2 linked regions of the Homo sapiens genome follow. The protein of the gene in region 1 purifies or fractionates together with the protein of each later gene. This does not show direct contact. Each region holds a gene or a part of one and is shown in the gene's direction. Other genes may lie near its edges.

Evidence for each region.
Region 2: the proteins of ERMAP (region 1) and FAM199X purify together in Homo sapiens (affinity purification with mass spectrometry; 2 studies listed by BioGRID and IntAct, with this or other methods). This does not show direct contact.

What each region holds. Positions count from the first base shown.
Region 1 is NC_000001.11:42,843,307-42,845,491, forward strand, and holds the end of ERMAP (erythroid membrane-associated protein precursor), read left to right. Parts: 3' UTR 1-1,685; downstream 1,686-2,185. UniProt on the Homo sapiens protein: Possible role as a cell-adhesion or receptor molecule of erythroid cells.
Region 2 is NC_000023.11:104,169,453-104,172,952, forward strand, and holds part of FAM199X (protein FAM199X), read left to right. Parts: intron 1-3,500.

The sequences.
Region 1 (2,185 bases):
TGATTATGGAACGTCTCTTCACCTTAACCCAAATCCAGACCCTTTTGTGGTTTCTATTTGTACCACTTTTCTCCCAGGCCTCAGTTCTGAAGCTTACCTTTCTTCTAAGGAATTGAAGCTCCCAGTGACCTGGAGGGAGGATTCCTGGAAACCAAACAATCAGTTTAGGTGCAGGTGGAGATGTTGAATATGTGTTACCAAGATACAGCACAGGTTCAGGGAAAAGAGTTCGCTACTCCAGGGGTTATTTAGAAGACACTTTCTCTGCCTCATCCTGCCCTCAAGCTTTAGTCAAGAAGTTATGGCCCCCAGTCCCTGACTTCTTACTTATCCCATTGAGGACTGCCTTTCTCTCTCTCAGTTCTGGCCTCTGCCCCCCAAAGTCAGCTCTCTAAAAGCAAGCATGTTTTAGACCACTCACTCTTTCCCTCTTTCTTCAGGAATGAATTGGGAAAGGCTGATGAGTAAAACATACCATCCTTTTCTATTTTCTTGATGCTGTTTACAACATAGTTTGGTGATATCCAGAGCTAATGTACATGCTTTCAAAAGCTAATCTGCCTGTTGATGGTAACTAGGTACAGCGACTTTAAATACAGTTGCTATAATCCTGAAAAGCCCCAGGAGCACATCAGGGAGCTGGGAAACACAGTTGCAGAGAACTCAGCTGTATGTTGCCCTCTGACCTTGGCCCAGACCTTCAGAGGCTCAGTCTGTTGAGTCTGTTGTGACTGTCTTATGAATCAATCTGTTGTGCCAACCCTTTCTGAGATTCAGAGAGGTCCAGCTAGAAAAAGTGGCAGTTTTAACCACCAACGTAGAAGCTTTTTTTTCCCCACAAGACCATTGTACTGCAATACTTGAGTATTTGTGTAGCAAACAGCCTCTTAGGTTGGAGAGTATTGATTTCAAATAGGAAGTTGGTAGACTAGGTGTGAGGATGAAATAATGACCTTGATTTTTGGGTGTGTATTGCAGAAGCCTCGTCGCTTTCAAGTCACATCATATATGCGATCTGGCCTAACCATGGAGATATTGGTTATCAGTTTGCAGATGAATACACAGTTCTATCCAACAGAAACTGTATCTTTCTGTTTGTCAGAAGTTCTCCGTTAGTTCCTGTATTAGTCAAGGTTTTCCAGAGAAACAGAATCAATATATATTGGGGCAGGGGGGCGGTGGTTATTATAAGGAATTGGCTCACGTGATTATGGAGGCGGTTAAATCCCAAGATCTGCAGGATAAGTCAGCAAGATGGAGTCCCATGAGAGCTGATGGTTTAGTTCCAGTCTGATGGCAGCAGGCTTGACGCCAAGGAAGAGATGATGTTTAATTCAAGTCCGAAGGCAAGGAAAAAGCTGATGGTCCTGTCCAAAGGCTATTAGGCAGGAAGAATTCTCTTAGGGCAGAGTTAGCTCTTTTGTTCTATTCAGGCCTTCAACTGATTCAGCAAGGCCCGCCCACATTTGGGAGGACAGTCTGCATTACTCAGTCTACTGATTTGAATGTTAATGTCATTGAGAAACACCCTCACAGGAACACTCAGAATAATGTTTGACCAAATAGCTGGGCATCTTGTGACCCAGTTAAGTGGATACATAAGATTAACTATCACAGTGACTCAGTGGAATTTTTTGTTTGCTTTTGTACAGTTTTAAAATAAAAGTTTGGTATTTGTGTTTTGGTATGCTGTTATTTTCATTGTGAATGAGGAGTTGTGGGGAAGGTAAGAGATTGGTTTCCAAAGAGCTTTGAGTCCCCCAAGGCAAGGTTTAGCCACCGTTCATACTAAAGCCATAGTTTTATTCCTGAGTCTGCTCTCTAGTATTTTATTTTATCAATTTATAAACAAATAGTGTTCATAAGGCACACATATTTCACTCAACCATATTCAGTTCCAAACATGCATTCCTGAATATCCCAATCTTAAAACTAACTCACATTGTCAGCTTGTGGAGGCAGAATACATGCATACATATACACATACATACATGAATATACATATAATATACACACACATATGCATACATACACATATACACATGTATACATGTATGTGTATATACATATCTGTACTACATAGGTGTATATATATGTATATGTATTTAGCATGTATGCACGTGTATATGTATACACATATATACATATGTATGTATAATACATATTCACACATGTATGCATGTAT
Region 2 (3,500 bases), on another chromosome or scaffold:
TTATGACAATTTTGTGCCTACTCATTTACTGGATTCTGGGCTATATTTGCAATTTTCATTAACAAAGACAGTCACAGCACTAACAGTCCCTGAGGTTGAATGGTTGCAATATTCAGATTTTTTTTTTTCTTTAAAGACAGAGTCCTGCTCTGTCATCCAGGCTAGAGTGCAGTTGCACAATCTTGGCTTAGGGCAACCTCCGCCTCCTGGGTTCGAGCGATTCTCCTGCCTCAGCCTTCTGAGTAGCTGGGACTATAGGCGTGTACCACTATGCCTGGCTAATTTTTATATTTTTAGTAGAGACAGGGTTTCACCATGTTGGCCAGGCTGATCTTGAACTCCAGACCTCAGGTGGTCCACCCACGTTGGCCTCCCAAAGTGCTGGGATTACAGGTGTGAGCCACCGCGCCCGGCCCAGTATTCAAATTAAAGTCATTTGTGATGTAGGTTGGTATGTCACTGGTCTAGGTTCAGTAGAAAATACATTACATGGACACAGCCAGTTTCCTAAGCATTCATACCTTAAGACCTACATGGATTGGTCTAGAATTTTAGGAAAATAGAATAAATTTCAATAAGCCAAAAAAGTGAATGAATTTTTTAAAAATGTGAAATGTCAGTGTGGAACATATGTAGTGTTTAAGACATTTTCTTTGGTTTTGGGGGCAGTGATTTTCTGATGTAAATGGAGGTTTTCTCTTAGCACTTCCAAACTATTGCATAAATCTTTTACTCAGTTATGTGATTTTAGAGCTCCGTTTTCAATCACCATTAACCAGAAAAACCTAAAGACTATTGTGTGCCTTTGGTAACACCCATAGTTTTCCTATCTAGATACAGAATTAGAGGTGCAGAAGAGCTGTGGGTTGCAGGTGGGAGAACCATGTTGGAGGAATTTGGTTTGGGGACTTGCTGAGACAAGTTGAAAATGGGGGGTTAGGATTTGGAGAAATATCCAAGCTAGAAATACAGATTTGGGAGTAATCAGTAGAAGTCCGTGACGTGATAGAAGTGGAACTACAGGTTACAAAGGTTGAGAGAGTGGAAGGTTTTCAATAAATTTAGCAGGGAAAGAAAGGAGAAGGGGAGATGTTGTGAGAATTTGAAAGGGAAATAAAGGTTTCTTTTTTTCTTTTTTTAACTTCATTTAGTTTTTCTTTTCCAAGAATAGAGATGTTAGCTCCTTAGAAGCAGGCCACAGGAAAGGGAGAAATTGAAAATATAAAAGAAGGTGGGATGAGAGATAGACATGATGAACTCAGAAGTCCAAATGGGATCATTAGCCTTAGAAATGACATAGAGTGTTTTTTACTTCCAAGGCAATAAAGAGGGCAGGAAAGATGGGTAATGAACCCAACACAATTGGGGTAGCTAGGAGGAAAGTAGGGAACTTAAGTGGGTAGAAGAAGGGGTTGTATATTCTCTAACTTGGAACCTTGGTGGCCTGTTGGACTCCAGAATAGCAGCAGAAGTCAGGTTGGCTATATGGGGATTCTGGCAGAGAGTCAGTGGTGAATACAAGTACTGATGGGGCACTGTACCCTAAGAATGAATATATAGCATAGACTTCAAATGACCTTCATCAGCTTGGCAGAACTTCATTCAACAGTGCTCATTGGCTGGATTCTTATCTTCAGAAGTGGCAGTCAGGCCCACCTGAGAGAAAAGGGGGTGCAGAGGAATGTGTACATGGTACACATGCTTTTCTTAATTTTAACGTTTAAATGGCTGTTTACCAAAATACCATTGAAAGTCCTTAGTCTGTATATTCTTGCTGAAACACCTTGCAGAGAAATGTTCTTGGCTTTATTTTTTTTTTTAATTAAAATTTGGGCAGCAAGCCTAGTTATTGAGTTAAACACCGTGTTTCACTGGAATTCTTTTCAACGTCTTTCAAGATTTTGGAGAAAGTCTCTTTTGAGAGTAATATTATGGTGATAGCTAGAGTCGAAGTGTTAGGTAACTTTCTCTTAGTGGAATATAATGTAAGGGCTTGTAAATTTAAATAGTTTAGTGCTGAGCACACAATGGACATTCATTACAAGTTTGAAACTGACAGAACAGTCTGAAAGAATCACACTTAAATTTTTATTTAAAAACTTATTATAGAAAACTGAGGGCATATAAAAAACTATAGACCACTCATGATCCTTTTCCCCAAAGGTAACAACTATCAACATTTTGATGTTTCTTTTAATGTGTCTATGTACAGATATAATTTTTAAACATCAGGATCAGTTTGTGACCTGCATATTTGCTCCTATATTGTTGGGTGTTTTCCTTTTGAATAATCTGAAAATATGATTTTTAGTGATTATAAAAATACCATTCAGATATATCATTTAATCCTCATATTTTAGGGGCATTTATTTTCCCTTTTGGACTATTACAAATAGTATTGTTTGGACATATTTGTACACACATCTTTTTTCCAAATTTCTGTTTGGGGAAGGGAACACAATCCTAGAAGGGGAATTACTGATTCCAAATGAATGAACCTTTTTAAACGTCTAGATGTACATAGTACTGCCAAATTGCTTTTAAGAAAGATTATGTCAACTTAGACTGTCACTGGCAATGGATGAAAGTACTTCCTACTTTGTTTTTATCTATATTGCCTTAAAATTATGATTTTAAAAATTTGCAAATTAGAAGATATAAAAATTTTGCCAGGTGCATTGGTTCACACCTGTAATCCCAGCGCTTTGGAAGACCAAGGTGGGAGGATTGCTTGAGCCCAGGCATTTGAAACCAGCCCGGACAACGTGATGAAACCCTTTCTCTTCCAAAAAAAAAAAAAAAAAAGAAATGTGAAAATTAGCCAGGCGTGGTGGTATGTGCCTGTAGTCCCAGCTGCTGGGAAGGCTGAGGTGAGAGGATGAATCAAGCCCAGGAGGTCAAGCCTGCAGTGAGCCATGGTCGCACCACTGCACTCCAGCCTTGGTTGACAGAGCAAGACCCTGACTCAAAAAAAAAAAAGGAAGATATAAAAAATGTTACAATCTTTACTAGTAAAAAATACTGTTATTCTATTTTATGAATGATTTGTTCAATTATGAGCCCGGTTTACTTGCTGCTGATAATTAAAAACAAAAGACAAAGACTTCTAAGAACATTCAGAACCTTGTGATGATTACAAATCTGAGAAACACATTGACTTTGCCCAAAGGTAAGAGCACAAAATGAAGCAAATTCCTGACTCCTTTGGCAGTGATCTAATGGTTAGATTACTAAATATGGCATCTTTTTTTTTTTTTTAAGGAATGTCACTATTACTCATGGAGAGAAACACATTTCTACAGAATTTTTACAAACTAAAAAGAAATTCTAATTAAAAACAATTATCTAACAGTTTTTCCTAGCACCGAACATAGTACTTGGTACATAGAAGATACTGACTAAATGTTTGTTGAATGAGTGAATGAATAAAGGGAAAAAAATCACATGTAATTTGAAGACACAAGAGAAAAATAGTTTGCTCAGGACATAATGTAGATAAG